Homo sapiens: one gene and its partners. The protein of the gene in region 2 interacts with the protein of the main gene of each other region in a pairwise test. Each region holds a gene or a part of one and is shown on either strand. Other genes may lie near its edges.

Region 1 (8,296 bases), on a different chromosome or scaffold from region 2:
CTCTCGCCTGTCCCACAGTCCCACACCTGGTCTGCAAATCATCAAGCATCAACTCTCATGCCATAAGGGATGTGTAAGGATTGATGTTTTCCCACACATACCTTCTTCATGTGGGAAAGTACAGAATAACGAAACTGCAATAAGCCACTCCCATGAATCAAGCTGTGAAATGGAAGGGTCAGCTTTTCTTGAGCATGAGAAGAGATAATTCTGCATGCATAGATTGCAAAAAACACCTCCAATCATGAACAGTAGGGTACCTGGTGATGTCTGGGTTTTTCTTTTCAAACCTGCAAGTCCTTTTTCCAAAATGTAAAGATTGATAGAATCTAAGATAAAAGACGTTGTCAGATACTTTACATCAGTTACCTTCAAAGCCTGTCTCATTCTGTAATTTAAACCTTGAGGGAAGGAGGCTTGTTTTCCTTGTTCTTGCATCCCCAGAATGCACCACAATATGTACATACATACATAAATGTAGATGATAAGGAGGATTTAATGTATATTTGATTCTCTTAAAATGGAATAATCACAAGGGGAGGAGCTATGTGGTTTCCAGGAAGTACCTTAAGTTACCAAAGTTTTTAAAGGCTTTTTTGTTTGAACCTAGAAGGAATATTAAGTAGACAGTAAACAGACTTCAATACGCTATTTAGATGAGAAGGCTGGAGTCACGTATATTAATTATCTTCTGAACGTAAAGGATGCTGATGTGAACTGAGCTCTATTGCCTATGAAGAATTAGAAGTTTTCCTTTGAAATTTTAGACCTTTTTTCTCACTGCAGTCTCCCTCATTTGCTACATATTTCACAGTCTGCTCTTCCTCACTACAGATGCAATAACCTGCTTGACATTCTCCTCTGGAAAAGGAAAAGAACTACGAGAGGAAGCATGGCACTTGGATGCAGAAATTGAGCACCCTCCATGTGATCCAGAGAACAGCAACTCATACGTCTTCTGGAACCTTCTACCAACAGTAGAACCTCTTAGCTTTATGGAGAAAACAGAGTCATTCTGTCCAGAGGTGCCACCCCAAGACTGTGGAGCCTCTCCTCGGCCCTCGCTGAGGAGCCTGCCAAAGAACCAGGGGAGTCTCCTCCAGTTTGACCGGCAAGCCCCAGGCCGCATCTCCACCTCGCCCACTTTGAGGAGATTAAGGACCCGTGGCTGTGGGACAAGGCAGGATGCCTGGCAGGTGACCACCTGGGGAAGCTGGGGAGCTCCTGTGGGCTTCCCATGTTACCTTTCGAAGAGCCTGCCAGGAAGCCCAAAGGATTCTTCACACTTGCTGTCACCCTTGAGACTCCACTCAAGATTGACCTCTGAACCTGAAAGGGCCCTGAATGCAGCTGACTCACTGGAGCCCCAAACCCGGCCCACTGACAAGTATCTCCCTCCTGAGCTTCAGCCTGTCAATGAAGGGTCCCTTCACCAGGCCTCTCTTCGGCAGCAAGAAGGCCACTTCCTGCCCAGCCCCACCCTACGACACCCTAGTCCTCAGGTAACACAGCTCTAAGCCTCCGGCCTCTCAGTTGCTGAACCACAAAGCAAAATAGATCTCAGAGTTGCTTAGTTCCCCCAAGGGCCAGTAGATCCTAAAAAGGAGACAGCACAGGAAGTCACACTGAGGGGACACATTCTCTTTAGGAAGCATTGGCTCTTAAGTGAAAGGAGGGCAGCAATCTGGGGAGGAAAGAAAATGATCTCGCTCACTTTCTTCTGTCCTTAGAGGCACTTTGAGAAAGGATGCACCAAGGCCAGGCTTACCGATGGTCTGTCAGGTACCCGAGAGCAATGGGGGCCCTCTTGCAAATGCACACTATTTAAAGACAACGTCGTGTCACTGATTTAAAAGGGGAGAAAGAGCCAGTTATTCAAATTTCCAATCCCACCAAAATGTAAAACATGTTTTAACTAGGAGGGCTCATTGTTTCTCCTTTCAACATGTTTGCTTTGGAGTTTGGGATGGGTTTGAGCAAGACTAAAACATATGTTCTTAAAATTTATTTCAGGGAGAAGAATTGCACCCATCCAGGTGTGTATGCATTTATTTTCTCCGGTGCTATGACATCTGTTGACTATTTACTATTAGATTTTTATTTCTGTCCTGACATAACAAAGCTGACGGTGTGTTAACCAGTGCACTTTGTTTTATAGCACTCAAGTCACTCTTCGCATTTATAGGTGCACGAGTTTTCATTTCAAGAGTCTCCCTTTAAGAGCACAGCATTTGGGGGCAGGATACAATGCCATATGCAGTCATAGTTTTCATTTTGAATTGTCAATGTCTTGGCCCTGTGGCTTAATTAACATCCACTTAGTAATAGGTTTTGTCTGGTAGAGAAAATAGAAAGGCCAGAGATATGCAACAGCTTTTCAAAGAAAAATTTGGAGGATAAAAGAAAGGAACAAGATGTCCTGGTTAAATCTAGGGTGACCTTTAAAATAACCTGTTATGACAGACTGTGCCCTTATCCAGAATGAAGTAGACTGTGTCATTTCCAAAACCAGCTCTGAACTTTCAGCACGGCCCCCTGGTTGTAGCAATGGATCTGCCATCTCTGACAGGGATGAAGAGTTTCTGCAGCAGCAAGGGAAAGATCCATGCCCAATTTTATCTTCCTGACTTGTGGGATTGGCAGGAAAGCCCTCATTTCATTTGAAAAGTCACAGAGGATTTTTTTGGAGAAATAGCTGCTGTTTTATTACTGGACCTCAATCCTCAAGCAATAGTTTGATATTCATAGCAGTAAGGATAACATCCATGTACACATTCTTTGTTGATTTTAATCCTTGTTGGCCTAATTGTACCAACAAAGGTAGAAGATACTTACCAAGCCATAGGGAAATGCAAATTGTTATGTCTGTGTATCAGCTAGCTGTTGCTAGATAAAAAACCACTTAAAGTAACAGACAGTTATTGTTTCTTATAAATCTCTGTGTTCCCTGGGGGTGACTTGGTCTAGGCTGGGTTTAGCTGAGCAGTTCCACTCCAAATGTTCCTTATCCTGCTCATGGGATCAAAGGGCTCCCATGGGTCCATGGGATCAATTAAGCAGATTCTTTATACAGTGAAGGGAGAGGTTCAAGAGGACAAGTAGAAACATGCAAGGCCTCTTGGAGCCTGGGCTCTGAATCTGGTCTAATTTTATTGACCAAAGCAAGTCACTCAGTTGAACTCAGCGTCAGGGAATTACATGTTACCAACAGTGGGAGAGCATTGAAATGTTACATGGCAAAGTGTATGGATGTAAGGAATGGGGAAGAGTGGGGCTGTTAATGTAAATCTTCCATACATGTGAAACAGAATAAAGCTCTCAGATGAGATCTAGTTCAGTTGTGTCAAAGAAAGTGGAAAAGGGTAGTCTTAGAAAAAAAAATTATGTTTAGAGTCGAATTATTTTAATAAGATTTTGAGAAATTTTATTCCTTACCCTAAGAGCAGTGTGAAACCATTTGATGAATTGATATGATCAGATGGATGTCAGATATACCTGGGATTTAGATGCAAGTAGACTTGAGTCAAATAATTCGAATGTTCAGGTATGAGAAGTTGTTAAGTTAGATTATGATGAAGGCAGTGGGGTTAAAAAGAAGTATCTCAATGCAAGAGATATTTAGGAGATACAATCCCCCAGACTTTGTGAATGGTAGCCTATCAGGGTGAGGGAAAGGAATCTTCAAGAATGACCTCCAAGCTTCTGGCTTGTTCAACTGGGTAACCAAGGTGTCCATTCACTGACCTAGATAAACTTGGGTAAAGAAATTAAATATGAGTGGTTAGAGTGTAGGTCTTGTGTTCAGGTTTGGACATGTTGAGTTTGAGGAACTATGAAACATCTAAGTGGAGATTTTGAGTAAATAATTGGTTAGAGAAGGCACCAGGGGTGGATGTACTATATGTATATTTGTGAGTCTTAAATCAAGGAATGTTTCCTAGAGCAGGTAAAGTCTGGGTCCAGCTCTGATTATTAGATGGAGCCGGCAGACATAAAGGCAGATCAATGGGATGCATGAAGCCATTTGCAAAAAAATGATGTGAAGGTAATTTCCATTGCCATATGAAATCTGTGAGGAAATAACAAAAATAGTCTTGGTAAATTTTAAAAGAACAGCTAGGTCAGGCTGGGCACAATGGCTCATGCCTATAATCCCAGCACTGTGGAAGGGCCAGGCAGGCGGATCACTTGAGGTCAGGAGTTTGAGATCAGCCTGGCCAACATAGTGAAACCTCATCTCTACTAAAAATATTTTTTCTTTAAATAAGCTGGGTGTGGTGGTGGGCACCTATAACTCCCTTCTTAGCCTGTTGACTTAAAGGTAGGAGGAGCCCAAAGTGTCCAGGTGGCAATTTTAACTTCAGTTTAATGGAAACTTTCTTGCGTCTCCTGGTGGCAGTGTTCCTCCCTCTGGAACTAAGACCTCTAGGCCAGCAGAACGTAATGTCACAGGAACAGGAGGCAAAAATTTGGCTAGTGGATCACTAGGGGTGATGATGAGTAGTGCCACTTTGACTTCCACCCCTTGATTCCTGAACCTGTGAATCCTGGCTATGGGAGAAACAGTACCATATATTGGATGCTGATTCAGAGCATTACATGGCCATCCAGAAAACTTTGTCCCAGCCCTGCAAAGTATTGTCACCTAGTTGGCACTACGATTGTGACTTCAAAAGGCCATTCCACCATTCTGTCAATCTAGCTGCTTCAGGATAATGGGGAACATGGTAAGACCAGTGAATTCCATGAGCATGAACCCACTGTCGCACTGCTTTGTCCATAAAGTGAGTGCCTTGGTCAGAGGCAATGCTGTGTGGAATACCATGATGGTGGATAAGGCATTCCATGAGCCCACAGATGGTAGTTTTGCCAGAAGCACTGCATACAGGATAGGCAAACCCATATTCGGAGTAAGTATCTATCCCAGTGAGGACAAACCTCTGCCCTTTTCATGATGGAAGAAGTTCAGTATAATCAACCTGCCACCAGGTAGCTGTCTGATCACCCCAAGGAATGGTGCCATATCGAGGGCTCAGTGTTGATCTATGCTGCTGGCAAACTGGGCACTCAGAAGTGGCTGTAGCCAGGTCAGCCTTGGTGAGTGGAAGTCCACTTTACTGAGCTTATGAGTAACCTCCATCCCTACCACCATGGCTACTTTGTTCATGGGCCCATCGGGCAATGACAGGGGCAGCTGGGGAAAGAGGCTGAGTGGTGTCCACAGAACGGGTCATCCTATCCACTTGATTATTAAAATCCTCCTCTGCTGAGGTCACCCATTCATGAGCACCTACGTGGGGTACAAATATCTTCACAGTTTTTGACCACTCAGAGAGGTCTATCCACATACCCCTTCCCCAAATTTCTTTGTCACCAATTTTCCAATCATACTTCTTCCAAGCCCCTGACCATCCAGCCAATCCATTGGCTGCAGCCCATAAATCAGTATATAATCGCACATCTGGCCATTTCTCCCTCCATGCAAAGTACACAACCAGGTGTACTCCTCGAAGTTCTGCCCACTGGGAAGATTTCCTTTCACCGTTATCCTTCAGGGATGTCCCAGAAAAGGCTTGTAGTGCTACAGCTGTCCACTTTTGGGTGGTGCCTGCATATTGTGCAGAATAATCTGTGAATCAGACCCTAGTCTTCTCTTCCTCTGTCAGTTGGTCATAGGGAACTCCCCATGAGGCCATTGGTGCAGACTGGGGGAGAGAAGGCAGGGTGGCAGGAGTGGAGACCATGAGCATTTGAGCCACTTCCTCATATAACCTACTTGTGCCTTCAGGACCCGCTTGAGCCCAATCACATATATACCACTTCCATTTGATGATGAAATGCTGCTATGCATGACCCACTTTATGGCTAGATGGGTCAGAAAGCACCCAGTTCATGATAGGCAGTTCAGGTCGCATGGTGACTTGATGACCCATAGTCAAATGTTCAGTTTCCACCAAAGCCCAGTAACAGGCCAAGAGCTGTCTCTCAAAAGGAGAGTAGTTATCTGCAGAAGATGGCAGGGTCTTGCTCCAAAATCCTAGAGGTCTCTGCTGTGATTCACCTATAGGGGACTGCCAAAGGCTCCAAACAGCATCTCTGTCTGCCACTGACACCTTAAGCACCATTGGATCTGCTGGGTCATATGGCCCAAGTGGCAGAGCAGCTTGCACAGCAGCCTGGACCTGTTGCAGAGCCTTCTGTTCTGGACCCCACTCAAAACTGGCCACCTTTCAGGTCACTCGATAAATGGGCCAGAGTAACACACCCAAATGAGGAATGTGTTGCCTCCAAAATCCAAATAGGCCTACTAGGCATTGTACCTCTTTCTTGGTTTGAGGAGGGGCCAAATGTAGCAACTTATCTTTCACTTTAGAAGGAATATCTTGAAAGGTCCCACACCACTGGACCCCTAGAAATTTTACTGAGGTGGAAGTTTTCTGAATTTTAATCAAATTTATGTCCCATCCTCTGGCATGCAAATGTGTCACCAATAAGTCCAATGTATTTGCTACTTCTTGCTCACTGGATCCAATCAGCATAATGTCATCAGTGTAATGGACCAGTGTGATATCTTGCGGAGGCGAAAAGCGATCAAGGTCTCTCCGAATAAGATTATGACACAAAGCTAGAGAGTTGATATACCCCTGAGGCAGGACAGTAATGGTATATTGCTGGCCTTGCTAGCTGAAGGCAAATTGCTTCTGGTGGGCCTTATGGACAAGAATGGAGAAAAAGGCATTCGCCAAGTCACTGGCTGCATACCGGTACCAGGAGATGTGTTCATTGGCTCAAGCAATGAAACCACATCTGGTACAGCAGCTGCAATTGGAGTCACCACTTGGTTAAGCTTACAATAATTCACTGTCATTCTCCAAGATCCATTTGTCTTCTGCACAGGCCAAATGGGAGAGTTGAACAGGGATGTGGTGGGAATCACCACCCCTGCGTCTTTCGAGTCCTTGATGGTAGCATTAATTTCCACAATCCCTCCAGGGATGCGATTTTTTTTTATTTACTATTTTTCTAGCTAGAGGTAGCTCTAAATGGCTTCCATTTTGCCTTTCCCTCCGTAATAGCCCTCACCCTACCAGTCAGGAAGCCAATGTGGGGGTTCTGCCAGCTGCTAAGTATGTCTATGCCAATTATATACTCTGGTCCTGGAAAAATGACCACAAGATGAGTCTGGGGACCCACTGGACTCACTGTAAGTCAGACCTGAGCTAAAACTCCATTAATTACCTGACCTCCATAAGCCCCTACTTTAACTGGAGGACCACAATGATGTTTTGGGTTCCCTGGAATCAACCTCAGCTCAAAGCCAGTGTCCAGTAGTCCCCAAAATGTCTGATCATTTCCCTTTCCCCAGTACACAGTTACCTTGGTAAAAGGCCAGAGGTCTCCATAGGGAAGGATGGGAAAAAGATTCACGGCATAGTGAATTGAGATCGCACCACTGCACTCCAGCCTGGACGGCAGAGCAAGGCTGCATATCAAAAAAAGATTCACTACATAAATTGTCAGTAATGTAGTGGGGTCCTTCCTCAAGGGGACCTGGCCTTCCCTTTATTCAAGGGGTTCTGGGTTTGTAAACTGGCTCAAGTCTGGAAATTGATTGAGGGGCCGTGATTCTGTTTTTACAATTCAAATTAGTCTTGTCCATTCAACCTAGAAGTTTTCTGCTTATGAAAATTAGGTAGGAATGTAGTAGGCTTCCTATCAATTTTAATTCTAGGAACACTGTAATTAATTAGCCAGTGCCAGCACTCTACAGGAGTCAGTCTATTCTGATTGCCGCTTTGCCTCTTCCGTCCATTATGGTAGCTACACCCACCTTGCCTTTGATGGTTGAGTGCTGCCACCTGGCCTCTGCCACCTTGGGATCCAATTATTCCCATTGTATTTAAATTTTGTAGTTGAGTGACTGCAGTTCCCACTGTTAGATCTGACATACAGAGAAGAGCAATTACAGGGCTCTTCAAAAATGCAGGTCCTGCCCTCACAAATCTATTTCACAAGGCATTGGTCAAGGGTGTATCTTCTGACCCTCTCTACTGGGATGAGTAGGTCTAAAGTGACTAATCCACTCCACCATCCCAATCTCCCTAAGCCTTTGGATCCCTTCCTCTACATTAAACTGAGGGAGATGAGGCATTTCCAGCTCACTCACAGTGGGCTATCTTTTAATCCATATTTTAGCTAACCAAGAAATAAACTCTTGGACCCTTTTTTAACTCCCCAAGCTGAGACATTAAATGCAGAGTCCCTATTTAGTGGGCCCAAATCAATAAATTCAGCC
Region 2 (8,853 bases):
GGTTCTTAAACCTTTGGGCGAGGACTGAATTACACCACTGATGTTCCTGGTTCTTCAATTTGCAGATGGCAGATTGTGTGACTTCTCAACTTCCATAATCATGTGAGCCTTTTTTTTTTTTTTTTGAGACAAAGTCTCGCTCTTGTCCCCCAGTCTGGGGTGCAGTGGCATAATCTCGGTGCACTGCAACTTCCGCCTCCCGGGTTCAAGCGATTCTGCTGCCTTAGCCTCCCAAGTAGCTGGGATTACAGGTGCGTACCACCATGCCCAGCTAATTTTTTGTATTTTAAGTAGAGACGGGGTTTCACTATGTTGGCTAGGCTGGTCTCGAACTCCTGACCTCAGGTGATACACCCGCCTCAGCCTCCCAAAGTGCTGGGATTACAGGCATGAGCCACTGCGCCTGGCCAAGCCAATCATTATAATAAATCTCCTCTTATGTAGAGATCTATATATGTTTTATTTATCCTGTTTCCCTGGAGAGCCCTATTATACCCCAGAGCATGTCAATGTGACCTTATTTGGTGGAAGGGTCCTAACAGATGTAATGAAGGATCTCAAGATGAGATCATCCTGAATTATCCAGGTGGGCCCTAAATCTAATGAGAAGTGACTTTATAAGAGACACAGAGGAGAGACACATACAGGAAGAGATGGCCATGAAAAGATTAAGGTAGAAATTACAGTGATGCTGCCACAAGCCAAGAATTCCTGGAGCCACCAGGACCTGGAAGGGGAAAGAATGATTCTCTCCTAGAGCCTTCAGAAAGAGAGTGGCTCTGTCAATACCATGATGTTGGACTTCTGATCTCCAGACTTTGGAGAAAAAAATTTTGTCTGTTTTAAGCCACATAGTTTGTGGCAATTTGTTATGGGAGCCCTAGAAAACTAATACAGATTTTGGTACCAGGAAGTGGGTGCTACTTTAATAAATACCTCAAATTGTGGAAGTGACTTTGGAACTGAGTAATAAATAGAGGTTGGATGGTTTTTGAGGTACTTGAGAGAAAAGTCATAGAATTTCTTGAAGAGACTGTTAGTGGAGTTATGGATTTTAAAGGCAATTCTGGTGAGGGAACAGAAGGAAGTGAAGAGCATGGTAGAGAATTCTTCCATCATCTTAGAAATGTATATCTCATCATGAGCAGAGTGTTAGTAGAAATACAGATGTTAAAAGTGGTTTATGTTGAAGGCTAAGAAGGAAATGAGGAACATGTTACTGGAAACTGAAGGCAAAGTGATCCTTGTGACACAGTGGCAAATAACTTGGATGAATTGTGTCCTTAGGTGGACAGCAGAATTTGTAGGCAATGAACTTGGATATTTAGCTGAGGAGATTTCTAAGCAAAGTGTTGAAGATGCAGCCTGGTTTCTTCATGCTGTTTGTAATGAAACAGAAAAGGAAATAAGCAAATTGAGGAAGGAGCTGTTAAGCAAAAAGAAACAACACTTGATGATTGGGAGCTTCTCGGCCTATTCAGATTGCAAAAGATGCTAAAATTGGGAAACTCACTGTTGGGAAAGTGTACTCTGGATACAGGGCCGAGGGTGTGCCTAGACAATATTGTGCTGAAGAGATCTGCTATACAACTGATGGATCCCTCAATTATCTCACGGATCCAAGGATAGATCCAGCGTTATCCAGGAAAGATCTGTGGGGGTTCTTTTATCTAATGGCATGGATCCCTGTGACATACATGGGAGCCTCAAAAGTTCTTGAGAAGGTTGTACCAGAAGAAACACTGTCAGCTTGGCCTGAAGGGGCTGAGACAGGACAAAGTGAAAGAGAGGCTGTCAGATATGCACAATTCTTCAGGCAAGAAGAGGACTGATAGAACTACTCAGGTATCAGCATGTGCTGCCCTTCAAGAAAAAGGAAGAATCACTATGAGGACAGGGTCATGGGCACAGGGGTAGAGGCTGAATGTTCAAGAGCAGAGACCTACCAAGTTGCCATGAGCAAAGAGGCCTATGAAGCCATGAGCCCAAAAGACACAGCTTCAAGCCACAGAGGATTATTCCCAGACCTTGAAACCAAATGACTTTGCCTTGTTGGATTTCTAACTTGCTTGGGATTGATGACCCTTTTATTCCTTCTAATTTCTCTGCTTTGCAGTGAGATTGTCTATCATATACGTGGCCCACCTTTGTGTTTTCGAAGCAGGTAACTTCTTTTCTAGTCTCACTAGTCAATAGATGCAGAGGAATTTTGCCCTTGCATAGCTCATACCCATAGACTCACCTACACCTGATTATTTATATGTGAATATTTGAGACTCTTTGAATTAATTTTTATGATATTTAGGTGAGAGTTAAGACTTTTGGAGATGTTGAGACGGAATGAATGTATTTTGCACATGAGGCAGATGTGAATTTGGAAGGCCAGAGGTTGGACTATAGTAGGTTAAATGGTAGAGCCCAAAAAGACATGTTAACATTCGAATCAGGGAATAGAACCTGGGAACATGGCCTATTTGGAAAAAGGTTCTTTACAGATGTAACTAAGTTAAGGCTCTCGCTGGAAGAGGCAAAAAAAGTCTTCTCCCCCCAGAGCCTTTGGAGGGAGTATAGCCCTGTCAACACCTTAATTTTGTACATCTGGCCTCCAGAAATGTGACAGAATAAATTTCTGCTGTTTCAAGGCACCCAGTTTGTGATCGTGTGTTACAGCAGCCCTAGGAAACTGATACAGAGGCCAAGCAAAAGTTCCAAATCAAGCAAAGTCCCACGGTGTATTCCTTCCAGTTATCCCAAAATATAACAATCCCAAAACAGTGGCTTAGAACAATAACAATCGTTTATTTTTGCCCACACATTTGGGTGTCATCTGGGCTTAGCTAGGCATACCTCACTCAGGGTCTCTCAGTGGTGGTAACCAGATGGTGGCTGGAACTGGAGCCACCTCGAAGGTGTCGTCCCTCACACGTCTGGTACCTGGACTAGTAAGACTCAAACAGCCAGGGACTGGGGCAGCTGGGGCCCCTTAGTCATCTCTTTCCCCTTCTATGTGGTTCTCACATGATCTTTCTACATGGCAGCTGTATTCTCTTATAGAAGCTGCCACAAAGATATGCCTTTTGATGAGTGTGTAAAAGAATTTGCAGATAGTACCATTGACTCAGAATTGCAGAGAGTATGGTGAAGTTCACCCCTCAGAGTTGTCTTGCTAAGTAGGGCAAGGAAGCTGCAATATTTATATCCCAGCTACCATCAGTAATCCACACTGGTAAGTACTGCCCAGGAGAAGATACATTCTCAGATACTTCCAACTCTCCAGGAGAGCAGGAAACGTGGGAATGGCAGCCTTCAAGGGGGTCCTCTGAGAAATGCAGGCGTGGCTGCTGGAAGGAAAGCACCCGGGGGAGGAAATGCACGCAAGCACAGGACTGTGAGCAGAGCACTGACACGGACTCCATATCGCCAGCTTATGTGGAAATGTAGCACATAGTGTAGCGGCATCATTATCTGGGGTAATACCTGAGGTTCATTGTCCCACAGCCATGGAAAACTAGGACGCGACACACCACAGTGAGGTTAAGAGCAGAAGTTTAATAGGCAAACGAAAGAGAAGAGCTATCTGTGCAGAGAAAGGGGTCCCAGAGAAAATGGGTTGCCAGTTCTGCGGTGAAACGCACAGGGTTTTATAGATGAGCTTGAGGAAGTGGCGTTTGATTTACGTAGGGAATGAAAGACTGGTTGGACCAGGTGTGCCATTTGCATAGTGCATGAAGAAGCTGGCCTTCCCACCCTAATATTTTATTCTGCAGATGGCTTCTCTACCTGACTGATGCCATGTTGCCTGTTCCTTCACTGTACACGTGGTGACAAAGAAAATGGAAGATGGAGTCTCCATATTGAACATACCTGGCTTCCAGGTAGTCTTTTTCTATCGGCACAACTGCCAGCATTCTCCCGTGCACTGCCAGCTTGCTTATCTATGTTTGTAGCTCAATTTTTCAGGCTGCTCTTTGCAAAAAAGAAATAATTTTGGGGTTGCTTTTTGTTCAGAAAGAAGCTCTGCTGAGGACTCTCTTACCTTCACTATCTGCCTAAATAATTTCTTTTTGGCTCCTGTATCAATAGCACTGGTACCATTTCAGAATTCTGGGGAAAGTCAGGGTTACTCAAATAAATGGCACTCAAAAAATTGTTATTCCTTTAGAAAAAAACATAATTAAGTCCCTTAACTCTCATTATCCAAAAATATAGTTTCCAGAGTAAAGAGCTAATTGCAAATAACAACAAACTGCTGCAAGAATGGTTGGAAACCATAGATGTGGTGAAGAAGGCCTTTCTAAGCAATATGCAGATCCAGAGGCAAAAAACAGACTGAAGCACTACATAAAATTTAAAATTAAAGTATGATGAAAGAGCAGAAACAACTAGGCGGCAACTGAGCAAAAATATTTTTCACATATGAAACAGAAAAATATAAGATATTCAGAATGTATAGAGTTCCTACAAATCCATAAGAAGGCAAAAATAACCAATAGAAAAATGGATTAAGAATATGAATTGGCGATTCATACAGTCTATAAATGCCAATAAACATATAAGAAGCTGCACAACCTCATGAGTAACCAGAAGCATCAATAATAAAGGATAGTGAGGTATCATTTTATCTCCATTAAACTGGCAAATTTTTTTAAAAGATTGATAATATCCATCATGGACTAGAGCATAGAAAAACTTCCAAATTATTTTAATTGGTTGAGCCATTTTGGCAGTACTTATCAAAATTAATAACGTGCATAGTCTTCAGATATATCCCATGTTGAAAAAACTGGTCAGAAAAACTCCAACATGCACAGAAAGATATACACACAAGGAACATCGACAGTTATGGCAGCATTATTTGTAATAGGGGAAAGGTGGGAACAACATAAGTATTCACCAATAGGGAAACGTTTACATAAAATGGAACGATGAATATACATAAATTATTCCATGGAAGTCTTCAGCCATTAAATATGAGATATATTAGGAAAAAAATGCTAGAAAAAAAATTTAAAAAAAGTTGTAGAAAAGTCTTGTCCCTATGATCTCAATTATATTTAAGAAATCCAATCCAATTAAGTATGTGCGCGTGCATACTGTTTGCATATGCATTGGAAGGCTCTAAAAGGTTCTTTACCAAACTGCTATATGATTTAATACCTGCAAAGCCTTGGCCTATGTCTGACAAAACAGGAAGTGCTATATGGGTTGGCTATTTTTGTGTATAATTATGCATTTCTTAATGATAATGCATTGCTGGATTACTTATGCTACTAAACGTAAACGTATTGGCCAGGCGCGGTGGCTCACGCCTCTAATCCCAGCACTTTGGGAGGCCGAGGCAGGCGGATCACCTGAGGTCAGGAGTTTGAGACCAGCCTGACCAACATGGAGAAACCCCGTCTCTACTAAAAATACAAAATTAGCCAGGCGTGGTAGCCCACGCCTGTAATCCCGGCTACTCGGGAGGCTGGGGCAGGAGAATCGCTTGAACCCGGGAGGCGGAGGTTGCGGTGAACCGAGATCACGCCATTGCACTACAGCCTGGGCAACAAAAGCGAAACTCCGTCTCAAAAAAAAAAAAATAAAGTAAACGTATTGCAATCATTTTAACTCTCTGCGCCCAGCTGATGACCAAGTGTAAGGCCCGTTCATTACTACTTTCTCCATCCTGAATCCAGCAGGGAGGGTAATAGGACACAAGGTAAACAATTCTTGGAAAAACTGCGGCATCCCACCTGACCCCGTCCAGCCTCCTGTCAACCAGTGCGCAAGTGCGAGTAGGCGGTGCCCAGCGCTCCGCCGCCCCGCCCTCTGCGGAGGTGATAACGACACTGAGCAGCGACGCGCACTTTTGGGACGCGCTTGTGACCCGCCTTCCGGAAGGAAGCGGCTAACTATGGCGACCGCCACGGAGCAGTGGGTTCTGGTGGAGATGGTACAGGCGCTTTACGAGGTGGGCTCCGCGCCATTAGCGGTCCGCGACCACACCCGGGCCCGGGGAGGGTGGGAGGACGCGTGTGGATTTGTGGCCTGAGACCTCGGCGGGACTGGCTCGGTCACGCCCAGACTCGGTGCCTCTTGCTGGAAGGACTGCCGGGAGCTTCTAGTCCCAGCGGTTGAGTGTAGGGAGGAACGGGCGGGGGCGGGGGCTGGGACTGAGGGTCTCGGTTTGAATTCTTATGCTCCGGGTCCCCTGGAAGCTCCGGAAAGGAACACGTGTAAGGGGACGCAGGAGACAGGTCTGCAAAAACCAGAGTTTAGACGGACGATAAAACGGAGTGGTGAAAATGAGTGGAACACCTTCGTCTGGGAAGGTCCTAAGGAAGTCAGCTCTTTGGAACTACGGTACAGTTCGTTGGGGAATAAAATTGTAATAAATTGGAGTTTGTTTTTGTCGAAAAGAAATCAAGTGACTTAGGATTTGTGAATAAAAAATAGTTTGTCATTCTTCTGCGTACATCAGTTTTCTGTCTTATAAAGATACAACTAGTTTAGTCGATTTTTATTTATTTATTTTTGTTTTTTTTTTTTGAGACGGTGTTTCGCACTTGTTGCTCAAGCTGGAGTGCAAGGGCGTGATCTCGGCTCACTACAACCTCCGCCTCCCGGGTTTAAGCGATTCTCCTGCCTCAGCTTCCCAGGTAGCTGAGATTACAGGCATGTGCCACCATGCCCGGCCAATTTTGTATTTTTATTAGAGACGGGGTTTCTGCATGTTGGTCAGGCTGGTCTCGAACTCCCGACCTCAGGTGATCCGCCCGCCTTGGCCTCCCAAAGTGCTGGGATTATAGGCTTGAGCCACTGCACCTGGCCGTAGACTTTTAAAGGAAGAATAGTTAAGAGTTTTTTGAAGCCTAGTTATTTCAGATACATAAGATAATAAGAAACCAGAATGTCAATCTTAGTGTTCATTCATTTAATAACTGAGAGTCCCCGTGCTGTCTTGCAGAGCTATTCATTGGGCACTGAAGAACTTATTTTATTTTATTTTATTTTTTAAAGACAGGGTTTCACTCTGTCGCCCAGGCTAGAGTGCAGTGGTGCGATCAGCTCACTGCTGCGTTGACCTCCCAGACTCAAGCGATCCTCCCACCTCAGACTCCCGAGTAGCTGGGACCACATACCACCATGCCCAACTAATCTTTTTTTTTTTTTAATAGAGACGGGGGCTTGCTGTGTTGCCCAGCCTGGCCTCGAACTCCTGGCCTCAAGTAATCCTCCTGCTTTGGCCTCCCAAAGTGCTGGGATTACAGGCATGAGCTACCACACCCAGCTGCAACTGAATTTTTAATTTAACTTAAATAGCCACGTGTAACTTAGTGACTGTCCACATTGGACCACACAGATCTAGATGCTAGGGATAGTGCGGTGAACAAATAGGCAGAAGTCCCTGTGCTTAAAGAGCTTACATTCATTTCAAGTGAATTTCACTTTACTTTTGATGATTTAATATCACCAAACTTAATATCACCGTCTACTGGTAGGGGTAATGACAGTGTCTTCCATTGCAGGACATACTGGGAATTTTATCTTGAAACAGCAGAGACAGCAGATGTGGCTCTGTCTTATGCTCATGTATTAAGTGATGCCCAGTATTAGGTTAACTGTAGTGACCTAAAATGAGCCACTAAAATTGAATGATCTTTTTTATAAATGATTTTTTAAAGAAATGGATTATTTTCTGTTAAATGTTGTTTGCTCCCTTTTTGAAGACTGACAGTAGTGTAACTTCTCATTCCCCGAAACTGTCCAACAGTGAGACTTGGGAGAACTCCTGTATGTAACATTTCCTGGGAAGGAAAAGAAGTGGTGTTTGTGATTTTTATTAATTCACTAGAGAGAGAGTTTCTCAGCTTTTCTTAGGGTGATTTCTTTTTGGAGTGGGCTCTTAACTAGTGGCTGGGGCAGATGTTTGCTTGCTAGAATCCAACTATTGAGAAAACTAAAAGGGTATTTAGACTTATTCATAAATGAATTGTATTTAGGGGGATGAGCAAATTTTAAAATTCATCATAAACTTCTTACTCCCAAATCCTATGCGTGTTGAATGTAGAATTTGAGTAGTCTTGTATAGTGTACCCAAAAAAGAACCACTGAAATTAAATAATCCGATGGTTAATATTGGGATTCTGTGTTAGATTTTATTTATTTATTTATTTGAGACGGAGTTTTGCTCCTGTTGCCCAGGCTGGAGTGCAGTGGTGTGATCTCGGCTCACCACAACCTCCACCTCCTGGGTTCAAGCGATTCTCCTGCCTCAGCCTCCCAAGTAGCTGGGATTACAGGTATGCGCCACCAGACCCAGCTAATTTTGTATTTTTAATAGAGACAGGGTTTCTCCATGTTGGTCAGGCTGGTCTCAAACTCCCGCCCTCAGGTGATCTGCCCACCTTGGCCTCCCAAAGTGCTGGGATTACAAGTATGAGCCACCACGCCTGGCCTAGATTTTATTTTTTTAATTTTAATTTTTATTCCCAAAGAAGTTTTAAAAGCTAAAAATATTAGGGGTTTTTCATGTGAGGGAGAAATTGCCTGCTATTAGAAATGGGGAAAGGAATGAATAGAAATTAAGGGAGCTTCGAAAGTAAATTGTTAAGAATAGGCTAAAAGTCACAGGAGGCAGTATATGCAGGTGTAGTAAATTTTATGTGCAGGTGTTAGAAGTGTATGTTTCATATCTTACTTGTTTTTGACTCACTCTTAGGCTCCTGCTTACCATCTTATTTTGGAAGGGATTCTGATCCTCTGGATAATCAGACTTCTTTTCTCTAAGACTTACAAATTACAAGAACGATCTGATCTTACAGTCAAGGTACGAAATTAAATCTCTGTTTTAATTATTGGGTATGTGAT
Region 3 (9,005 bases), on a different chromosome or scaffold from region 2:
TCATATTTCTTGCACATGAGGCTGCCCCAAAGGCAAGTCCACCTTCCCTGTTGACCAGACAGAAGAGATTCTCCATCTCTACCCACAAAGGCTGCAGGAGAATCAGTTCCACTTCTACCCAGGCGCACAGCCCCAGCCCTACAATTTTCTGGTAATGCCTCACCAAGCAGCCTCTGCTCTGCTCCCCGATTCTTTTTTGCAGCCTCTCTAACTAGAGTCTTGTCCCCTTTCCTCTTAGCCCACCTTTCTGCACTGTCTACATCAGGCTGGGCTCTGTGTAAACTTTTTTGCCTAACCCACCATACACAGAAGGGGACAGAAATCACATCTCACCCTCAGATTGATTAAGGAGGGTGCTCATACCACTGAGAAACTTGGAACCCATGGGAGCTGCAGTTGAGCCACCTTATAGAGGACCCAGCGCTTGTGAACTAGCCTGGGATCCCGGTCACCCCAGTCCAACATCTGCAGCTGTGTAAAACTTTCCATAGTTGAAAATCACTGCCTTCAAGCATACATCTGGGACAAAACCCTTAAAAAATGAGCTGGGGATTGAGCTTACCAAATCCCTAGGGCCTAAAACTTACTGGCCTCCCTTAAACCTTGGGTCTAGGTTTACAGGTTAGATGTTTCCACTGAAATCCTTTATACTTTTGACTATAGGGGAAATTCTATCAGACCTGAACTCACTATTTAGGCTTTGTTGTTGGCTATCTTTAATGGGAAAGGAGACAGCATTCAGATCTCCTTAGAGTTATGTCAGAACAGCAGGTTAGTAGGAACTGCCCACAGGGTGGGACAGAAGTTGTAAGAGCTACCTCCTGGGAAACAAAAATCATGCAACACTCTTTGCCCTCCTAGGATGTCACTTTGCATTTAGTTCAGGACAGCACTGCTCTCATCCTTCCCGCCTTCTAGATAATAAACCAGCAGGGCATGAGGGTGCTTGGTTTTTCTTTTAGGATCTAGCAATGCAGTTCATCAGTGCCTGGTCGCATTTCACCTAAAGAACCTATTCCCCAACTCCCTGCATGTTCAGGACTCCAGGAGGATGGATAACCCTGGGAGGTCTGGACACCCACCAAGCCTGGCCTGACCATAGAGCACTCTGCCCTCCCTGCCTCTCTAGCTCTGCTTGAACACTGCAGATCCCTGGCTCACTGGCCCCACAGCTCTTTAAATTTTCTGGTAATGCTTTAAATTTTCTGGGCTGCTCCCCAGCCCATGCAGGAGCAAAAGTTCCACCCGACCTATAGCTTCCAAGTCCACCATTCTGAAGTCCTCAACAGCCTGCAGTTTATTAGAAGTTGCTACAGAGACAGGAAAGTGTTACCGGTGGAGGGTGTCCTGCTCACTGAAACATTCTGTTTGCAGGAGAAAAACAAAAACTTGGTCTGTTCTAGGATCTATGTGTTTCCTTAAAGTCTTAGAATGAGCAACTCCATTTTGGTTTGGTTTGGTCTGTTGGGGCCATGAGCTCAGTCCAAAACACTGGCCTTTCACAATTTTGTTTTTTAAAATTCCCCCTTTTTGTTCAGGTTCTCACTTAGGTGAGAATGTAACCAAAACGTAAGGCCTTAGCGCCGCTCTCAGTTACCATCATTTTGGGTTTCCAGTCTCAGCACACCATCCATAGGTTACAGTGTCCTCATGGTCGCATATTTGTTTCACTTCTCATCATTCCAGTTGAAGAGAGACCATTTGACATTCTAGAGATGGCTGCATGCAAACATCGAAAACCTTTGAGAGAATACAGTGCACCAGGGAGCCTATTATTATGATGACTATTGGGAGGATAATACCAAGAGTTTGGAGGATGCTCCTTGCCCAGGGTTCCCATAAACCAAACCAGTTAAAATTAAATAGATCAAATAATGAACTAAATAAAGAATCTACCAACTTAAGTAAACAATCTCCTCATTAATCCCCTACAACTGAATCTCTTAATCTTCATTTAATGTATTTCTCCATAGACTCTAAGTGCCAGCAGCTGCACAGATACTTCTCTGTTCAGCCAATTCTATCATAACTTTCACAAAAGAATTTAAAGTCTGTTGTGTAACTATGGCCTTTACAGTAGATGTTCTGAGAACATCTATCCTATGGGTTCTAGGTTGTGAAGGGGTTGATTGTTCTCAGTGAACCATAAAAAGCTTTCTTTACCTGGTGAAAATACACTGTAGCATAATCATGGGAAAAGCTTTTATACAACAAGAAAACATGCATTGAAAGTGACATTGAATAAAATCCCTTTGTAAATGTTTAAATGGCCCATCGGGTAGCCAAATGTACCTGAAGCTTTGATTGTCTTCCCAGGAATATGGATTTGAGAAACCAAACATTGGTTATAAACAACTTTAGCAATTTATAAGTCAGCGGTTTCCATGGCAGTTTGATTTTTAAAGGTCAAACTTCCTCGCACTTCAAAGAACGCTGAGGCCAAACAGCACCAAAGGAGAACATCACACTTTAACCCGACACAACCCTGCTTAGAACAGCAGCACAAGAGCCTGCATACATGCAACTCCATCCCACTTTACCATTCAACAGCAAACTCCAGATTCCAAACAATATTGAGGCCAAACACTACTGCAACCGGAAGAGAAAATTCTAAGGAGGGCTTAGTACTAGGCCTAAGAACCTCTACCAAAGGAACCCCCTTGGAGAGGCTGAGGTCCAAAGGATCCTCCAGAGCATCCCCCTTTAGGGTCCAATCTTAGAGCGTCAGACGTCTCTGACCTTAGGTGGTCACCAGTGCCACTTTACATGTTTTCCCTCCAGAGGGGATGGCCTACTGTGAGCTTTCCTTTTGTCTCTGGATGAAGGCCTTGACTTCTAGCATCCTTATAATTTGATAAGGCCATGCTTTCCCATGGTTCCCATTCCACTAGAGTGATAGTCATGAACTTTAATGATATGAAATGGAGGCTAGGTGGGTTTCTTTTAACCTTAGCCAGTAGAGTAGGGGAAGGGAAGAATTTAACATAAGGAAAGAAGGTTTAAGTCACCTGAAACACGTGTGAGTTCGCCCTGGAGAAGCTGCGTCACACATAGGGATCAGGGACCACAACCAGAAAAGACAGAAAAGAGCCCTTCCCGCTTCTGGGCAGGGCAACTATCCCCATTCACTCCTTGGCCTTCAAGGCAGCACTGGAGAGTAGCCCCCGGCCAGAAACCTGCAGTCGCCTCCGTGTCTAGGCGCTACCCACCAAGGATCCCACGTTGGAAAGGAAAAGAGAAAGAGAGAGATTTACCTGTATGGAGCAGAAAGGAAAAGGGAAAGGAGAAAAATAAATCCCAGACTTTGGGCTTACCTCCTGGTTGGCTTGCCAAAATATGTTACCAGTGAAGAGTGTCCAGGTTCTTGGCGTGTTGAACAAAGAACTGGACAAACACACAAACAAAGCAAGGAAAGAATGAAGCAACAAAAGCAGAGATTTATTGAAAACGAAAGTGCACTCCACAGGGTGGGAGCAGGCCCGAGGATAGCGGCTCAAGAGCCCGGTTTCAGAATTTTCTGGGGTTTAAGTACCCTCTAAAGTTTTCCCACTGGTTACTTGGTGTGCACACAATGTAAATGAAATAGGAGCCCGAGATCAGTCTGAATGGTTGCAGAAAGCGATCAATGGGAGGCTGAAGTGAAGTTACAAAGTTATGCCCTATGAAAACATCTGATTGGACGCAGAAAGCGAAGTTACAAAGTTACATTCCTATGCACATGAAGACTTGGCCCTGGAGACCAGTCTGATTGGTTGCGGGAGGGGACCAATCAGAGGTATTTTCAGTTTTTCATCTGCCATGTAGAAAAGGAGGGGCTACAAAGGAAGTTTGTGGAAAGTTGGGATTTTCCTCCAGACCCTTATTCTCCTGCTTCAGAAGGGAGAGAAAGCAGACCGGGATGGGGGTGCGGGGATCTTCCCGGGAGTGGTGGGGTTGTGTTACCAGTGCCCCACCTCCTCCCGAGCCAGCAGACTCCCCAGAAATGAAAAACTAAGGCTGGAAGGTTTAGCGATGGAGCAGGACCAACTTACCAGCTCGCGGTGCTCCCTAGAAGCTGGATTCTTCGCAGGTGCGAGCACACCCCAGATGCCAGCGTGGACCCTTGAGCAACTGGAAGTTAAAAACCCACGAAAACAGCTCTGAGTGATCTCTAGGGAGCTCTCGTTTCTTTTTCACCCATGTGTATTTTTTAAGACAAAAAGAAAAAAGGTAATTTAAAGAAAACAAAGAACAAAGGAACTTGGCGAGGCCCAGGCTACAGTCCGCGGGCTCACTCTCCACAGAGTAAAAAGAACGCGAATCCTTTTCTGTTTTCCGGCCCTCCCCATCCTGGGCTGCGGCTCCACACTTCCCCAGCGTGGCCTGCATTTCTATTGGGCAGCTGGCGCTCCGGAAGTGTCCGCACTCTTTATTATCGACTCTGCGCCTTTGGGCAATTGTCACTATTTTGGTTCATCAAAATTGAAGAAATACCAGGCATTCTTACCATGCCCCTAAAGGGGTGACTCAACCTTTCCAGCTGTACTCGCATTCCCAGAGCAGCACTGCTGCCCCCTTGCTTAAAAGCACGGTTGCCCCCAGGAACCAGGCCAGGGCAGCTGTGGATGGACAGGAGAGGACAAAGGTGCAAGGAGCGGATTGCTCCAGGACAGACAGATTCAAATACCTACCCCTGGCAGTGTAGGGAGCATCTTGGGGCCATTTGGGAGATTCCTTTATTGGGATGCTCCAAAGGCTAGTCTGGCCGGATACAGTCCTCCTGCCACTTTGCTTTCCTTTAGCCCCCTTATTATGATAATTATGGTAATACATGTTTTTCCTGCTAACTTGTCTAAGAATTGGTGTCTCAGTACATAGCTTTTGAAATGCACACAGGCCACGATGACTCATCACAGGGGAATGTGCAAGTCTGAGTTGCTCCTTCTCCGCAAGCTCCACCTACCCCACTCTGGACTGCATTAACTGCCTACTGCCTATTCTAAAATCTTAAGGTACCTAGGAAGAGTACCTATTCACATTAAATAACGTATATATTGAAAGCACATAGCTGCGCTTTTCTTCTTCTCATCTGATCCAGACGCCAGCTCTATGGATACAGTCTCACCGAAGTTAAAAAACTATTCTTCAGTCATTGGCTTAGAAAATGCTAGTGCCGGCTGGGAGCAGTGGCTCATGCCCATAATTCCAGGACTTTGGGAGGCCGAGGTGGGTGGATCACCTGAAGTCAAGAGTTCGAGACCAGCCCAGCCAACGTAGTGAAACCCCCGTCTCCACTAAAAATACAAAAAAAATTAGCCGGGCGTGGTGGCAGACCCCTGTAATCCCAGCTACTAGGGAGGCAGAGGCAGGAGAATCAGTTGAACCTGGGAAGCGGAGGTTGCAGTGTGCTGAGATCATGCCACTGCACTGCAGCCTGGGCAACAAGAGCAAAACTCTGTCTCGGGGAAAAAAAAGGAAAGAAGAAAGAAAGAAAGAAAGAGAGAGAGAGAGAAAGGAAGGAAGGAAGGAAGGAAGGAAGGAAGGAAGGAAGGAAGGGAAAGAAAGAAAGAAAGAAAGAAAGAAAGAGGAAGGAAGGAAGGAAAGGAAGGAAGGAAGGAAGGAAGGAAGGAAGGGAGAGAAGAGAGAAAGGAAGGGAGGGAGGGAGGGAAAGAAAAAAAGAAAGAAGAGAGAGAGAGAGAAAGAAAAAGAAAGAAAGAAAGAGAAAGAAACAAAGAAAAAAAGCTAGCGCAGGCCGGGTGCGGTGGCTCACGTCTATAATCCCAGCACTTTGGGAGGCCGAAGTGGGTGGATTGCCTGAGCTCAGGAGTTGGAGACCAGCCAGGGCAATATGGTGAGAGGGCATAGTCGTGCGCGCCTTGGTAGTCCCAACTACTGTGGTGGACTGGGGAGGGTGTGGGGGCGCTGAGGCATGAGAATCGCTTGGATGGAGGCAGAGGTTGCAGTGAGCCAAGATCACACGGCTGCACTCCATCCTGAAAGACAGAGCAAGGGATTCTATCTCAAAAAAAGAAAAAGAAAAAAAAGAAAAGAAAAGAAAAAGAAAATGCTAGTGCAGGGATTTTCCCAGAGCACCAGGATGGCTTCCAAGGCAGAAACAAAAGACATTAAGAAGTTGTTCCCATGGGAATGTGTGTGGCAGGCATGACATATCAGATCAACTTGGAATAGAAAATGCATATCCCAAAAGGCCCCTCAAAAGTGAGCAGAGTAAAAACATTCACAGAACTTTTAAATTATGTTTTTATTAACTATTGAGTAGAAACAATATTTATAGAATACATATAAGGTATAAAGAACAAAAGTATGAACATCTGTGAACCCCTTACACGGCTAAAGAATATTAACAATAAGCCTCTCCTCAGAGGTAAAACACCATATCAAAGTTTACATTGAACCTTGTGTTGCTATTCTTTATAGTGTTTTGCGGGGAGGGGGTTGGGGGGTTGTTCTGGTTGTTTTTAGCCCACTGCAGCCTTCACCTCCTGGGCTCCAGTGATCCTCTCACCTCAGCCTCCCAGTAGCTGGGACTACAGGCACACACCACCAAACCCAGCTAATTTTTAAATTTTATTTCATTTTATTTTATTTTTTGTAGAGCCAGGATCTTGCTATGTTGCCAAGGCTTGTCTCTAACCCCTGGGCTCAAGTGATTCTCCTGCCTTGGCCTCTGGAAGTGCTGAGATTACAGGTGTGAGCCACCATGCTGGCTTGCTGTTTGTTCATGCTGTAAATTCCCTTTGTTGATTTCCAAAAGTGTTTTTATACTTCTAAGTTGCTGAGAGTCCTTATTATGAATGGATGTTGAACTTTATCAAAAGCTTTTTCCTCTATTCAGATGATCATGTGATTTTTCTCTTTTGAACTCTTAATCTGTGGTGAATTACACTGATTAATTTTTTTTTCTTGGAGACAGGGTCTCAAACTGGCACCCAGGCTAGAGTGCGGTGATGCAGTCACAGCTCAGTGCAGACTCAAACTTCTGGCCTGAAGGATCTTTCCTCCTTCAGCCTCCAGAAAGTCTGGGATTACAGGAGTGAGCCACCTCACTGGGCCTGATGATTGATTTTTTAACGCCAAAATCAACGTTGAATTCCTGACTTGAACCACCTTGGTCGTGGTGTATTATCACTTTTACAAATTGTTGGATTTTGTTTGCTAAAATTTTGTTTAGAATTTTTCATGTAGATATTTGAGTGATAATTGAGTGACCTGCAATTTTCCTTTCATACTTTACCTATCAGACTTGTTATCAAGATTATGCCAGCCTCATGAAATTAGTTAGGAACTGTTTCCTCTTTCTAGGAAAGCATTTGAATAAGACTGAAATTCTCTAGGACTGAAATTCTCTCCTCCTTAAACTTGCTTGTTAGAACCTGCTGTGACAATGGTTACAGAATTTCTGCTTTGATCCACGAGTTAAACACTTTTTTAATTCCAAAAGATATGAACATTTTTCTAGTTACCGTTTTATTACTAGTTTATAATGTATTTGCATGTGGGGTCAAAGAATGTGATCAGTATCAGTTCTCTGAACTCTTTGAATAATTACTTTTTAATTAGAAAAAAATCTCAAATATTATGCGTTCAGAAGCAAAAACACCCCCCCTCCACACACACACACACACACACTTTATTAATTACAAAAAGCAAATTGTAACTGCACAGTAGGGAAACCTGGCAGACGCCACTTTATCCAAATGATCAGAGTTAACATCATCAGGAATGGAACTAATCACTATCAAGTGCCTTCTAATACCGTGAACTGAGAACCGTAACAGCCCTTCTATGGAATTCATGCCAAAAATGCATAACCTGAATCTAATCATGAGAACACATGAAATGACCCAAAATCAGATACTCTGCAAAATAATAGGCCAGTCCTCTTCAATAGTGTCAAAGATATGACAAAGACAGATTAACATCTCCAGATTAAATGAGACTTAAAAGAAAGGAAAGCTCAATACAATGCATGATCTTAGATCAAATCCTGGACCAGAACTTTTTCTCTTTTGAGAAAAAAACATAAAGACACTTGAGGCACAACTGATATAATTCAATAAAGTCTACAGATTAGATAATAGTATCAGGGTTAATTTACTGATTTTGATGATGGTACTATAAATGTCCTTTTAGGAAACACCCACTGAAGTATTTAGTGGTAAATGGGAACCCTGTCCGCTACTTACTTTTGAATCTCAGGAAGAAAAATGGTAGAAGGAGGCACAGGGACAAGGCGAGAGAAGGCCATCAGGATCATCTGTGGTCAAAGGACTCTGGGCACACTGACATTTAATAACTAATTTTAAACTTTTGATTGTTTTATTATTATTTTGTTAGACATGGGGTCTTATTCTGTTGCCCAGGCTAGGATTCAGTGACACGATTATCGCTAACTACAGCCTTGAACTCCTGGAATCAAGCGATCCTCTCGCCTCGGCCTCTGGAATAGCTAGGACTGCAGGAGCACACCACCACACCCAGATAATTTTTTGTTGTCTTCTCGAGGGGGGGGTCATGCTATGCTGCCCAGGCTGGCCTCATATGATCCTCCCACCTCAGCCTCCTGCTAATATATAATTTAAATATTTGTCTTTCACTATGCTCAAGGCTTTACTAAGTTTTGTTAAAAGTAGGGCCAGGTGTTGACTGTTAATTCGTGAAACAAAAGATGTGACCGCTTTCCATGCTTGAGATTCAGAGCAGAAGAAGTTTAGGAAAGTCATTATGTCAAGCCAACTAGAAACTAGCAGAGACCTTGGTACAGCACTCCATAGCAAGAAGTGGCAGGAGACTACAAGGACAGATCTGTGAGCATTCCTGGAATTCTCAGAAATCTTAAAGGAAATAAGCTAGGTTTAAAAAAATTTTAAAAAGGAGGGCACTAAGTGGGGTATATAGGAACTTTCTGTACTATGCTTGCAACTTTTCTATATGTCTGAACTAAAATAAAAGGCTAATTTAAATTTTCAAAACATTTTGTTTCATTTTACAATGGCTGGATAGAT
Region 4 (4,906 bases), on a different chromosome or scaffold from region 2:
AAAGATTTAACAGTACCAGATTTAATCTGGATAACCTGGCTGACTTGGAAAACTTGGTTCAAAGACGGAAAAAGCGACTGAGACACAGAGTCCCCCCCAGGAAACCTGAGCCCCTGGTTAAGGTGAGTGGGAGGTCGGGGTTAGGGCAGTGCACACACCAGGGCTCCAGTTCCAGAGGAAGGGCTTGGGGCAGAGTGGGCACTGCAGGCCAGGACCACACAGCCAGTGCCTGGGGAGCCCATTAAATCCACTCCAGAGCCCCCGCGGATGTGTCCGCCAGGGCTGCCATAACAAAGTCCCACAGCCTGGACAGCCTCAACAGCAGGCATGTGTCACCTCGCTGTCCTGGGGGCTGGAAGGCTAACAGGAAGGTGTTGGCGAGGCTGGTTCCCTCTGAGGGTGGTGAGGGAGAATCCCTTCATGCCTCTCCGGCTTCTGGTGGATGCTGGTGATCTTTGGCGTTCCTTGGCTTGTAGATGTATCACCCAACTATTGCCTTCATGTTTGCTGGGCGTTCTGCCTGTGTGCATGCCTGTGTCCATGTGTCTCCCCCAACTTTTTTTTTTTTTTTTTTTTTTTTTTTGAGACGGAGTCTCGCTCTGTTGCCCAGGCTGGAGAGCAGTGGCACGATCTCGGATTACTGCAAGCTCTGCCTCCCGGGTTCATGCCATTCTCCTGCCTCAGCCTCCCGAGTAGCTGGGACCACAGGCACCCGCCACCACGCCCGGCTAATTTTTTTTTGTATTTTTAGTAGAGATGGGGTTTCACCGTGTTAGCCAGGATGGTCTCAATCTCCTGTCCTTGTGGTCTGCCCGCCTCAGCCTCCCAAAGTGCTGGGATTACAGGCATGAGCCACCGCATCCGGCCCACGTGTCCCCTTTCATAAGGACATCAGTCACATTGGATTAGAGCCCACTTTAACACAAGTCATATTGGTGAGGGGCCCACCATACGCCGGTGTGACCTCATCTTAACTAATTACATCCTCAGTGACTCTGTTTCCAAATAAGGTCACATTCTGAGGTACCTGGGGTTAGTACTTCATACGAATCTTGGGGAGATACAAGTCAATCCATAACACACACGCTCACACACACACAGTCTATTCAATCTCCTGGCGTGGGATTAGAATAAGAAACTGCATTAGTACGAGCCAGCAGTGTTCCTTGGTGGGCTGCATGGGACCCGTGGGCCAGACTGGTGAAGCTGTGACATCTTGGGCACCTGCGGCCTTCGGGAGTGATTTGGTCTTGTCTTCAACTGAACCAGCCGCAGTCCCAGGCCCAGGTGGAGCCTGTGGGCCTGGAGATGTTCCTGAAGGCAGCTGCTGAGAACCAGGAGTACCTGATTGACAAGTACTTGACAGACGGAGGGGACCCCAATGCCCATGACAAGGTAGCACAGGTTGGGTGAGTCGGCTGGCAGCAGCTGCAGCTGCAGGAGCGCTGCCTTCAGTGTGTTCAAGTCCTGGCCTAGGAGGCTGCAGGGATTTTCACTCTTATGGGCATGAATCCAGTGGCACCTGCAGACGGAGGAGAGGGAGCGGCCCATCGCGTGGTGGGGGAAGTGGCAATTCCATTCAGGGACCTGGCCCTGGGAAGGGGACCGCGTGGGGTCTCTAGGGGTGGCTGCACTCCCTCTGCCTAATCTTCCATCTCTGCCCTCAGCTCCACCGCACCGCCTTGCACTGGGCCTGTCTGAAGGGTCACAGCCAGCTGGTGAACAAGCTGCTGGTGGCAGGTGCCACAGTGGACGCGCGAGACTTGGTGAGGATGGGGAAAGGCCCAGCCTCTGGTCGACGCCCAGCTTCACATCCCAGCAGCTGAGTGCTTGGGTGCTTTTGTTTTGCAGCTGGACAGGACACCTGTGTTCTGGGCCTGCCGCGGAGGACATCTGGTCATCCTCAAACAGCTGCTTAACCAGGGAGCCCGGGTCAATGCCCGGGACAAGGTGAGGGGCACGGTGCTTTGGGGGCCTGTCGGGAACACGGGAGCAGACGCTGTTCCTGGAGAAGAGAGCACGTAGTCCCATGGGTTAGGGAGGCCTCACCAATCCAGACCCAGCACTGACCCCCACTTGCTCTCAGATCGGGAGCACCCCCCTGCACGTGGCAGTGCGCACCCGGCACCCCGACTGCCTGGAGCACCTCATCGAGTGTGGCGCCCACCTGAACGCACAGGATAAGGTAAGGCAGGCGCTTGGTCTTTTCCGGCTCGGACAGCTCCAGAGGAGCAGGGACTGAGGAGCCCCAGCCAGGACCAGAGGTGCTGTCTGCTCGGTGACAGCAGCCCTGACCTTCCTGCATGAGGAGGGCAGCACGCGGAGGCAGAAGCTTGACTGCCTGCGTTCTCAGCAGGAAGGGGACACGGCTCTGCACGAGGCCGTGCGGCACGGCAGCTACAAAGCCATGAAGCTACTGCTGCTCTATGGGGCCGAGCTGGGGGTGCGGAACGCGGTGAGTGTGGGCGCAGCCCTGGCTCCTGACCCGAGGGCGGGTGGAGCGCCTGCAAGGGACTGACCCACACCGTTGCTCCCAGGCCTCCGTGACCCCGGTGCAGCTGGCTCGAGACTGGCAGCGCGGCATCCGGGAGGCCCTGCAGGCCCACGTGGCGCATCCCCGCACCCGGTGCTGACCGCAGCACCGCCCCCCGCCGCGCCTTTCGCACTGCCACCATTCCATCCTGTGCCCCGCCCCCGCGTCTGCACCTCTGTGGTTCCTGCCCTCAGCCCTGGTTCCTCCCTCTCTGGCCTGTGCCGCCTCAGCAGCCCTGGCAGAACTGAAGAGCGGCACCGGGCCCAGCAGGCAAAGAGAGAGGCCTCCCTGGCTTCGAGTGTCAGGGGAGCCGCGTTCCCTCCCAGGGCTGGAGCAGAGGACCACAAGGCAGCAGAAAGCGCGGGTCCAGATGAGGGCCAGGAAGGGGAGGAGAGTGAGGGCCAAGAACGAGCCTTAAGGGAGCAGTCCCAAGCTGGAGCCACCCAGGGCTGGGTCTGGGAGTCCTCAGTGTCCACTTGTCCCAGGTTAGGGGGCTTGCCTTGCTCTCTCCAGGGCCAGTCTGTGTGTGTGGGGACTCAGCCCGTGGCCGGCAGATGCCATCCAGGATGTACAAGGTGCAGCCAAGGCAGGCCATGCAGGGGCCGGGCCTGTCTGCAGCTGGTGGATGCCTGTGGGCATGGCTTTCTCTGGGGACCCCATTCCTGTCAGTAGCAACCCTGGCAGTGTCCGGAGCGGCTCTAGACAACTTTGGTCATAGGAACTCTGGAGGTGGGTTCTGGTCATCTGAGGTGGCTACTCAACAGGTTTGAGGCCCCACAGCAACAGAAGTCCAGGACCCACTAGGTTGCCTCAGAAGCCCTAAGACTGATGAGCTGGAGCGCGCATTTGAGAGAAGCCTCGCACCCACTGTGTACTGGCCCCGCTCAGGCCGGCCTGGCACACCGTTGCCTGCTGGCGGCTCTCATGGGGAAGCGCCTGGGCACTGGGGATTGCTTGTGGCCCACTCAACTCTTGGGGCAGTGGCCCGTAACCCTAGTTTGCCTGAGGCCCTTATGTCCCCTTATGTTCCTGGTACTGGAGCTTGAGCTCTTGCCTGGAACGCTGCAGCTGCACCCACCCTGCTTGATCCCACCTGGGAGGCCAGGACACTGAGGAGCTCTGAACCCAGCCCACAGGGAAGCAGAGGAAGGTGAGCCCCCGCCGCCCCCCAGCCCTTCCCATCCCTTCCCTGCTCCCTGGTGGTCTAAGGACCCAAGCTCCCTAGACTTCCTCTTCCACCGTCTGTACGTTTCAAATTACACTGGTGTAGGCCTGTACTGCTGGTGGGGCTGGGCCCCTAAACGCCAGAAAGTGAATCTTAAGAAGCTCTGCCCTAAACTGAGAACCACATGCTGAGGGAAGGGCTGAAAGGTGAAGGCTCAGCCTCCCTCACATGGGTCCTGGGTTACATTAGGTACCGGGCTGATTGATAGGCATTTGGCCATGGTTCCTTTTCGTCTACCTTTGGGGGCCTTCTCAGGCCCAGAACAAGGCTGTTGTTACTATGTGGAAAAGCTGACCAGTGCTGCACACTAGGGGCACACACCTTTCCATGAGCAGCTCCTGCCCTGTGGCGACAGCCAGCGTGCACCCAGACGCTGGTGCCATGGCGAAGCAGGCGTTCAAGACCATGGAGAAGACAACTCCTCATCTAGAAAATGAGGACACCTCAGTGACAAACACACCTTTTTATACCAATCAGTATCCTCTGTTCATTAAAACTGGCTATCCATTACAGCCTAGCCGTCTTTCCTGGGCCGAGAGGAGCCCATGCTTCAGTCACCAGGGACTGTCTGATAGGGCCCACGCCTGTTAGCCATGCCGGCCGACAGCAAGATAGGCCGAGTGCAGAGTGGGCGGGATGCGGGGTCCTGGCACTAGGCTTTTGTGCTTAAGGCACCTCTGCTCACTGACGACAAGGTCAAAGAGCAGTGGTTCTCCACCTCAGCTGCTTATCAGAATCACCAGGAAGGTTTAAAAAGTCCTGATGTCCAGACCCTAAGTCAGAAGCCCTGAGGGGAGGATCCAGGTATTCTCATGCAGAGGCCATGCTTGTCTATGTGGGAAATCCTAGGAATCTACAGAAAGCAGACAACTAGGGAGTCCAGCAAAATCTCGGGTGCAAGATAAACACACAAAAACCTGTTTCTACCTCCTAGAAATGAACATGTAGACACAAAAGTTAAAAATATGTACTGTTTACAATTGCTGAAAAAGGGAAATACTTCGGTTTAAATCTAACAAAATATGCAAGGACTTGTATGCTGAAAATTATAAAACGTGATGAAATCAAAGATTTAAATAGACATGCCATGTTCATGGATTGCTAGACAGAATACAGTAAAGATATCAATTCTCCTCAAATTAACATAC

The links.
Region 1: the proteins of SPTLC1 (region 2) and PLEKHG7 interact in binary tests that used the Homo sapiens proteins (3 or more experiments, as listed by UniProt).
Region 3: the proteins of SPTLC1 (region 2) and SLFN12 interact in binary tests that used the Homo sapiens proteins (3 or more experiments, as listed by UniProt).
Region 4: the proteins of SPTLC1 (region 2) and ANKRD23 interact in binary tests that used the Homo sapiens proteins (3 or more experiments, as listed by UniProt).

Annotation. Positions count from the first base shown.
Region 1 is NC_000012.12:92,705,637-92,713,932, forward strand, and holds part of PLEKHG7 (pleckstrin homology domain-containing family G member 7), read left to right. Parts: intron 1-834; coding exon of another isoform or gene 835-995; coding exon 996-1,502; coding exon of another isoform or gene 1,503-1,517; exon of another isoform or gene 1,518-2,013; coding exon 2,014-2,036; coding exon of another isoform or gene 2,037-2,079; exon of another isoform or gene 2,080-2,913; intron 2,914-8,296.
Region 2 is NC_000009.12:92,112,414-92,121,266, reverse strand, and holds the start of SPTLC1 (serine palmitoyltransferase 1), read left to right. Parts: upstream 1-5,853; 5' UTR 5,854-5,896; coding exon 5,897-5,953; intron 5,954-6,200; exon of another isoform or gene 6,201-6,345; intron 6,346-8,704; coding exon 8,705-8,812; intron 8,813-8,853. UniProt on the Homo sapiens protein: Component of the serine palmitoyltransferase multisubunit enzyme (SPT) that catalyzes the initial and rate-limiting step in sphingolipid biosynthesis by condensing L-serine and activated acyl-CoA (most commonly palmitoyl-CoA) to form long-chain bases.
Region 3 is NC_000017.11:35,428,874-35,437,878, forward strand, and holds the start of SLFN12 (ribonuclease SLFN12), read right to left. Parts: upstream 3,628-9,005; 5' UTR 3,315-3,627; intron 1,741-3,314; exon of another isoform or gene 1,598-1,740; intron 1-1,597. UniProt on the Homo sapiens protein: Ribonuclease which is part of an E2/17beta-estradiol-induced pro-apoptotic signaling pathway.
Region 4 is NC_000002.12:96,837,276-96,842,181, reverse strand, and holds the end of ANKRD23 (ankyrin repeat domain-containing protein 23), read left to right. Parts: coding exon 1-122; intron 123-1,269; coding exon 1,270-1,395; intron 1,396-1,667; coding exon 1,668-1,766; intron 1,767-1,851; coding exon 1,852-1,950; intron 1,951-2,086; coding exon 2,087-2,185; intron 2,186-2,356; coding exon 2,357-2,455; intron 2,456-2,537; coding exon 2,538-2,633; 3' UTR 2,634-4,270; downstream 4,271-4,906. UniProt on the Homo sapiens protein: May be involved in the energy metabolism. Could be a molecular link between myofibrillar stretch-induced signaling pathways and muscle gene expression.